Linked DNA regions of Homo sapiens: region 1 is linked to region 2. The links come from fine-mapping of genetic effects on gene expression. A gene starts in region 2. The other region holds a variant in brackets. All regions are shown on one strand. Distances are between the middles of the regions. Region 1 overlaps C9orf50 (chromosome 9 open reading frame 50). Region 2 holds the start of ASB6 (ankyrin repeat and SOCS box containing 6).

Region 1 (4,376 bases), 26 kb before region 2:
AGCCCATCCTGCTTCTGGGGCCTTGGTTTCCCCACCAAACAAACAGAAGTTGGGCAAAAATCACAGCTTCTAACTCCAGCTTCCTGTCACGCTAAGGAGGCTGCGTCAGATCCCTCCCAAATCAGCGAAGGTCCTAGGTTTGCAGGGCATCGCCCACAGCTAGACCTTGAGGCAGACATTTCCTGAAACTGCACATAGTGGGTGCTCAATAAACAGCTAGAGGACATTGACTGTTGGGGACCCTGGGGGCTGCTGGATCCTGAGAAGAGGCTGGGCACACAGAAAAAGGTGGAGCTTAGTCAAGGTTATACCAGAGTAAGAACAGGGACTTCTCGCCTGCTTCTCGAGACACACTTCAGAAAATTCACTGGGAATGGCCAGGCGCGGTGGCTCATGCCTGTAATCCCAGCACTTTGGGAGGCAGAGGCAGGTGGATCCCTGAGGTCAGGAGTTCGAGACCACCCTGGTCAACATGGAGAAACCCCGTCTCTACTAAAAATACAAAATTAGCCAGGGGCGGTGGCGCATGCCTGTAATCCCAGGTACTCAGGAGGCTGAGGCAGGAGAATGGCATGAACCCGGGAGGTGGAGCTTGCAGCGAGCCGAGATCGCGCCACTGCACTCCAGCCTGGGCGACAGAGTGAGACTCCGTATCAGAAAAAAAAAAAGAAAAAGAAAACTCACTGGGAACTGCAAAACAGACACCATTACATCCAGGGTCTGGTGGCTCTTAGCTTCCTTGCTGGACCTGGCAGTGCCAACTGTCTCCAGGAGAGAGAAAGTTTCCGCTTCGCGGCTTTTCTGGGCACCTCCTCAGGCAGGCTTCGAGGTCTGCCTTCATGGATGTCAAAGGAAGATGCTTCCAATGGCATCTGGACCTCCTCCAGCCCCTGTAGGCTGTGGGGACTGCGGAGGGGAGCAAGTGTGGGCTCTGGAGGCTCCGGCTACGGGTCTCAAGGTGGGCAGATACAGCATATGGGAACCCCTTGGCAGCGAGCAGTCCAAGGTGCTGCCTGCGTTGGAACACCTCCACTGGACTCTGGACCCTCTACTTGGTCTTCGAAGGTCAACCTGACATCCTCCAAGGAGGCCAGTTCAGGCACATCCTCTGCAGGATCACTGATCTCTTGGCCTTTGCAAAGCCAGTCCCTCACTCTAGGGGCCCGGAGCTACAGCCTCTCTGCCCTCCTGGCTAGAACTTTCGGGAGTCTCGAGGCTCCCCATCCTGTCTGCTTACCTGAGCGTCTGCGCTCCCAGTAGCGGAGCGTTGTGTCCTGCAGGGTCTCGTCAGCGAATCGCACCCGGAAAGGGCAACGCTGCCTGCAGGGCCTAGAGCCTTCCCCCGAGGGGTTGTGGGTCAGCGCAGCCTTGAGCCTGGGGACCTGTGCACCGTGGGGCCTGCTGAGAGAGGGGAGAGGGGCCTGTGCTCGAAGCCCCCCACCGTACCCCAGCACACACGCACCAGCCCCAGACTCGCTGTGAGATCCTGGACAAGTGCCCTACACTGGTCTTGAAGAATGGATAACGCCAATCACAGCAGCCGGCCTTAACGGAGCACTTCCTACCTGCCAGGCAGGCTCAAGCACGCACATACACCAACCCACCAAATGCACACAGTCCCCATGAAACGCTGTTATCATTCTCATTTTATAGTTGAGGAAACAGAGGCACAGAGACTATTCCAAGGCGATGCAGCTGTCAGGCATGGAGCCAAGACCTGCATCCTGGTTCCAGAGCTGGCGCCCTCGCACGTAAAGCAATTTAGCAGAGAGAATAAGAATGCCAGCCCAGGAGTCATGCAGTCCTGGGTTTCATTCCTGACCCTTTTGAGCCTCAGTTTTCTTGTCTGTAAAATGGGAATCATTGTGCCCACCCTACAGGGTTGTGAAGAAAGGAAATGGGCCGTACAAGCATCCAGCCCAGGGTCTGCAGGACCCAGAGGAAACATCACTAACAGGGAGCTGTTTTTTGTTTTTGTTTTGTTTTTGAGACAGATTCTCGCTCTGTGGCTCAGGCTGGAGTGCAGTGGTGCCATCTCGGCTCATTGCAAGCTCCGCCTCCCGGGTTCACGCCATTCTCCTGCCTCAGCCTCCCGAGTAGCTGGGACTACAGGCGTGTGCCACCACGCCCGGCTAATTTTTGTATTTTTAGTAGAAACGGGGTTTCACCTTATTGGCCAGGGTGGTCCCGAACGCCTGACCTCAAGTGATCCACCCCCCTTCGCCTTCCTAAGTGCTGGGATCACAGGCATGAGCCACCGCCCGCCCGCCTGCCTGAGCTGTTCTTATTGTAACTGTCTATCTCAATCATGCCCCATCCCAGCCACGTGGCCTTTGGTAGACTGTCTCCAAGTCTCCATTCTGCAGGTTTTTTTCCCTTTAAATTATAGGCACAATAATACCATCCTCCTGGGTTTGGTGAGTATCAAATGATTTACATGAGGCATGTAGGACGTGGCCTGGCACAGGGTTTGGCCTTAATCAAGGGTATCTGTTATATGTATATTTCATAGATAACATTGTTCCATTTATTGTTATTAATTTCAGCCTCAACCCGGTGTGGTGGCTCACGCCTGTAATCCCAGCACTTTGGGAGGCAGGCAGATCAAAAGGTCAAGAGATCCAGACCATCCTGGCCAACATGGTGAAACCCCCGTCTCTACCAAAAATACAAAAAAATTAGCTGGGCACGGTGGCGTGCGCCTGTAGTTCCAGTTACTCGAGAGGTTGAGAATCACTTGAACCCAGGAGGTAGAGGTTGCAGTGAGCCGAGATCGTGCCACTGCACTCCAGCCTAGGGACGGAGTGAGACTTCGTCTCAAAAAAAAA[GA/G]AAAAAAAAATCAGCCTCAAGGGCAAGGCTGCGGGAAGGCCTGCTTGACCCACCTATAACTCTGTTATGGAGGAAGGTCATGGCTGACCGTTAGTATGCACATAGTTATATGTCTGCATCCATTCATCTGACCACATCTGTATGTCTGTGTAGATGCAGAGGGAATGCTTTTCATCAGCCTCCAAAGAGCCAAGCAGTTGGGAGGTGTCAGGACAGTGCCTGGCTACATGCCTTGGGACCTAGTCATCTAACAGTTGTCTGCTCAGGAACCCCTGCTCTCTGCTGGCTGCTGGGCCAGGCAAAGGCATAACCCAGCTCTGCCCACCTGCCTGAAATCTCAGCATCTTCACTCGAGGGCCACTGGAGCCTGTTCTGAGGCACCACAGTGTCCCCTGCAGGGCCTACCAGGGAATCTCACACACAGTAAGGTGCTCAAGTATTTGCTCTTGAATGTGAAAGTCTGTAACTGTGTTTGTCTCTGCTTTTGCTCACATTTGAGAGAATGAATTCCATACTTTTATTTATTTGTATCTTGTGAGAAGTCATGTGTATATTTGGCCTGATTGGTTGAACGTTCTGAGGTTGGTAAATGTGTTTCACTGTTTTTGTTTGTTTGTTTGTTTTTTGAGACAGGGTCTTGCTCTGTCACCCAGGCTGGAGTGCAGTGGCACGATCTTGGCTCACTGCAGCCTCAACCTCCCAGGCTCAAGCAATCCTCCCACCTCAGCCTCCCGAGTAGCTGGAACCACAGGCATGCACCACCACGCCCAGCTAATTTTTGTAATTTTTGTAGAGACAGGGTTTCACCATGTTACCAAGGCTGGTCTCAAACTCCTGGGCTCAAGCGATCCTCCTGCCTCAGCCTCCCAAAGCACTGGGATTATAGGCATGAGCCACCATGCTTGGCCATGTGTTCCATTTCTAGTTCCTACCCTGATCCATCAGGAGTATCTACCTAGAGTACTGTGTGAGGAATGGTTCTGAGGCTCAGTGGGGAAATATGATCCATTAGTTTTGTCTGCTGTGGGTATGAGATGAGGAAGAATGATATGTTTGTGATGTATTTACTCTCCCTGGTCTTTAAACTCATGGGCAGTGCCATTCACCCTTCACCCCTGCTTAAGCCTGGAGGAATTTTAACCTGGAGGAACTGTTTCTGTCTTCTTTTCCTCCTCTGTTAAAACTATGGTGTCTAGGCCCAGGTAGGTTCCAATTCCTAGGCTCTTCTCTTACCTCCATCCCTTAGTTTTCTCCCAATATTCAACATATAGTAAAACCTAATAAAAGTTAGAGTAAGAAATGGACAAATGATGGTGGGATGGGTAAAATGATGGAAGACTGGGTGGGTGGGTTGATGGGTGGATGGACTGATGGGTGAGTTAATGAAAGGGTCTGAATAGAACTGAACTATGAATGTATGGGTAGATGGACAGATGCGTGGCTGGATGATTATGTAGATGGGTATGTAGGTTTGTGGATGGCTTTATGACTAGATTAGCGATGGACAGTGTCCTGGGTTTACAAGTGGATGGAAGGATTTGTAGATG
Region 2 (4,381 bases):
ATGGAAGTGGGGATTAATCTGGGAGCTGGGGAAAGTTTGCTAATCAATCACATGGTAGAAGCAGCAACACTCGCTCTTGGAACAGAGGTGGGAAGAGCCATGTGAAAACCCGCAGGGGGTGGGAGGCCACCCAATGGGAGTTTCCTTAGTTGCAGCCACCCAGGAAATAAAGGGGGGGAAGTCACTCCTCAGAGGATGGTAGAAGCCAAGGCTGGGGACATGGGCGCCCACCCAGCGTCGGGCCGCGTTTAAGCCACCTGCCCACCCCCGGGGCTCTCGCTGACCTTCAAAGTTGAGATTGGCCCCATGCCGCAAGAGAACGTCGGCCGCCCGCGTCAGCCCCAGCTCAGCCATCTTGAGCAGGGCGTTGCTCACGCCTTCCTGGTAAAAGGGAGAGTGGGCTTTCCTCTCCAGCAGCTCAGTGAGAACAAGGATTCGGCTCTCCTCGCTGGCGACATAACTGGGCCTGGGACAGGAGAGAGGCTGAGGGTAGGCACAGCTGTGGGACCGGGTGACCGCGCAGCCTGTGGGTTGGTGGGCTTTAGTCCTGCTATCATCATCAGCAAGCAGGGCCCTGGCTCTGTGGGTCACAGGGGCTTGGGGGAAGCTCTGAAGTAGAGAGAGGGCCACGCTGCATCTCTTAATACGGGAGCAGACTGGGATTTGCGGAGAATGGGCTGGGTCTGTCTGCGCTCTCCTCCCGCGTTGCCCAGAGTCCGGTCGCAGACTTAGGTACAAAGCCTCACACACCTGGGCTGCTGGGACTGAAGGGACCACCAGCCTGGAGGCCAAGAGCCCAAGCCCGACTTTGATGCTTCTTCCTCAGAAAGCCCTTCCATCCTCAAACCCGCAGGACCCCAGCCCCGGCAACACCTGCAGCCAGGACAGCAACACAGCCTCCTCCCTCCCCTCACATTGAGACCTTCAGCTGATATTGATGAAGAAAGCCTACGTTTCCACCAGAGTCCCTGGATGGCGAGACTCATCATTACCACGTGTTGGAAATACCAACTGACAACCCCCTCAACACCTGAGCCGAGCCCCTTCCTTCTGCTCTCCCCTCCCTTCCACCTCGCGTGCCGCCGTACAATTACTTGTCAGTCTCTCCTCTGGAGCACATGCGCCAAGAAGGCGGGGGTTTTGCTGAGCCACTGATGGACCCCAGGTGCCTAGTACCATGGGCAGTGAATGCAGATTCGCTCCCGACCCCTTTCCTGCAGGTCCACGACAGACCAGCTCTTGTCTATAAAAACGCAAACTCTGCTACAAAAGCCCACCTTCACACTGCTCTGGGGTAACATCTGAGGCCTCACGGATTCCACCCTGCTCCTCTGCCACGCCGGGGGGTGGCACAGGACAGGCAGGCGACAGGGTGGGGCTGAGGCGCAGGCCCTGCGACAACCCGCGGGCCTCCGCCCTCGGGCCCTCCCCGCCCTTCGTCTCCGCCATGCAAGGGGCAGGAGTGGGATCCGCGCGGGGCAGCGCGCACTCCGAGCCACGCAACCCCGGCTTCCGCCCGTCCCTTCCTCTGTCAAGGGGGACGCATCCACCCCGCCCGGCTTGTGGTGATAAAGTGGGACGCTGCGGGGTCGGAGCGGCCTCGGCCAGCTCACGGGAGGGGGTGAGTTACCGGTCCAGAGACTCCTGCCGCTCGGGGTCCTGGATCCCCAGGGAGCCCAGAATCGCATCCACCAGCGGCTGGTACTCGAAGATGATCCTCCGGAAGCCGTGCAGGAACGGCATCGCCGCGGGCCCCGCGCAGCAGGGCCGTCGCGCTTTCTGCCGAGGCCGAGATGCCCAGACGCCGACCGGAACGCTCCGGCGGCCGCGGACCCCACCTGCTCCGCCAGTCCAGCCCCTGCGCCCGGCCGGGTCCGCTCCTCAGTCCAAGCCGCGCCCCCGCCGGAAGTGACCCTCGTACTTCCTGCCCGCGCCGACTCAGGGTGGGCCATATGGCGACAGCGCCCCCTGCGGGCTCGGAGGACCTCGGCGCGTCCTGGGGCACGACCGCCAGGCCGACTCGGGCGATGTCCAGTGGGCGGCCCCAGCGGAGTGGGAGAGTGGAGGATCGAGCCAAGCCAGATCCGAGACTCAGGCGGGTCCGCCCCTTCCTGCCAGGGCCCGGCCCGGCTCGGCTTCGCCCTGCGATCCCGCCCGCGACCGCTGGGCGCCGTCCGAGTTCCGCCGGTCGTGCTCTCGGCCCTGCCGCTGCCCCACTGGCCCTGGGCGCCCCTGAGAGCTGTGGTCATCAGACACTGCCCCTTCCGGTTCGGGCTGGCCCTCGCCTTCCCTGAAGAGGGGCTGGGCCACCTCTGTCACCACCCGGCCCGCTGACTGGAATGATGAGGACCAGGGTACTCGCACGTCCCCTCCTCAGTTTCTTATTCTCTGTCCCGGGGAGCACCTGGCCAGGACGGCTGCTAGCCCTCTCCACCTCTGCCTTGATGGACTCAGTGAATCTTGTTTTTTGTTGTTGTTGTTTTTGTTTTTTTGGGGGACGTAGTCTCGCTCTGTTGCCCAGGCTGGAGTGCAATGGCACGATCTCGGCTCACTGCAACCTCCGCCTCCCGGGTTCAAGCGATTCTCCTGCCTCAGCCTCCCGAGTAGCTGGGATTACAGGCGCTGGCCACCACGCCCAGCTTATTCTTGTATTTTTAGTAGAGACAGGGTTTCACCATATTGGCCAGGCTGGTCTCGAACTCCTGACCTCGTGATCCTCCCACCTCGGCCTCCCAAAGTGCTGGGATTACAGGCATGAGCCACGGTGCCCAGCCCGAATCTTGTGTATTTTTTAGAGACAGGGTCTCACTCTGTCTCCCAGGCTGGAGTGTAGTGTAGTGATCATGACTCACTGCAGCTTTGAACCCCTGGGCTCAGGTGATCCTCCCGCCTCAGCCTCCCGAGAAGCTGGGAACACAGGAGTGTGCTACCGCCTGTCTCTGAACTTGGATTTCCTCATCTGTAAAATGGGTAGAATCCCCAGCACTTTGAGAGGCCGAGGCAGGTGGATCACCTGAGGTCAGAAGTTCGAAGCTGCAGACCGGCCTGGCCAATATGATGAAACCCTGTCTCTACTAAAAATACAAAAATTACCCGGGCGTGGTGGCAGGCGCCTGTAATCCCAGCTACTTGGGAGGCTGAGGCAGGAGAATTGCTTGAACCCGGGAGGCGGAGGTTGCAGTGAGTGGAGATCGCACCATCACACTCCAGCCTGGGCAATAAGAACGAAACTCTGTCTCAAAAAGAAAAAAAAAAAGTATAATCACACTCACCTGAGATGCTGGAGCCAGCGCACTGTAATTGTTGGTGGAAGTGGAATTCAGTGGGAAGGAGCCAAAACCCTCTGGTTCAGGAAGAAGGGGCGGAGTGGGCAGCCGGGTTTAAGCCCCTTTAGGGCAACACCAGCTTGGGCTTCCTAGAAGCAGCTCCAGGCCGCAGAGTCCACAGCTGCCAGCACGTTTCTGCCTTGGTTCTCGCTGTAGGAAAGAAATTTCTCCCTGGGTGAAATCGGGAAATTCTGCTCACATGGAAATGGACATTTCCAGCTTGCCTTGGAAAAACCACTTTTCTGGAGTCGAGGCACCTCCCCTTGGGCCATGCATTTGAGCCTCCTCTCCCACCTGGAGTCTGCGTGGGGGGGCCTTGATGCCTTCTTGCTTCTGGGAAGCTGATGATGAAGAGGGGTTTCCCGCCCCAGCAGTCCACATCACAGCGTTGGCCTCCTGGGCCTTGCTCTGCCAAGTTGGGCCCCTCTCCCTGGAACCTGCCAGACAGCGAGAGTTGCCCAGCCCAGGAAAAAAACATTTAAAGGCGCATTTCAAGACAATCCGATGGGTCTTAGAGTAAACATTTTTATATTTATTTATTTATTATTATTATTATTATTATTTTTCAGACGGAGTCTCACTCTGTTGCCTAAGCTGGAGTGCAGTGGCAGGATCTCGGCTCACTGCAACCTCCAACCCCTGGGTTCAAGCCTACCAGGTAGCTGGAATTACAGGCATGCGCTACCACGCCAGGCTAATTTTTGTATTTTTAGTAGAGACGGGGTTTCACCATGTTGGCCAGGCTATTCTCGAACTCCTGACCTCAGGTGATCCACCCGCCTCAGCCTCCCAAAGTACTGGGCTTACAGACGTGAGCCCACCACGCCCAGCCAGATGAAACATTTTTAAATGGGCAGAGTAAGGCCCTCTACCATGTGCAAAACAAACTGTACAAGAAAACCCAAAGCAACGAGCCTCAACCGGCAAGGTTGAGGGTGTGGCAGCAGCGGCTGGTAACTGCTGGCTCTGGTTGTTAAAGCTGTTGTCAGATCCAATGACAGGCTCTCGGAAAACCACCTCCGACGCCAGGCATTCAGAGTGCCTCAGTTTGCTTC

Evidence for each region. PIP is the estimated chance that this variant, and not a neighbour inherited with it, causes the effect.
Region 1: its variant is the best candidate, but not a certain one, in a credible set for the expression of ASB6 in lung (TOPMed, PIP 0.74).

What each region holds. Positions count from the first base shown.
Region 1 is chr9:129,614,247-129,618,622 of GRCh38, forward strand. It overlaps C9orf50 (chromosome 9 open reading frame 50), which reads right to left. Exons shown (of 7, transcript NM_199350.4): 4 at 1,238-1,401. It also overlaps a transcript of NTMT1 not described here. Among named protein-coding and RNA genes, the nearest start is that of C9orf50, 4.7 kb to the right of the region's middle. The variant GA/G (reference allele first, on the strand shown) is at 2,829.
Region 2 is chr9:129,640,257-129,644,637 of GRCh38, forward strand. ASB6 (ankyrin repeat and SOCS box containing 6) reads right to left here and starts at 1,895. Exons shown (of 6, transcript NM_017873.4): 1 at 1,631-1,895; 2 at 285-466. The coding sequence starts at 1,743. RefSeq lists enhancers at 1-398, 399-955 and a silencer at 1,662-2,261.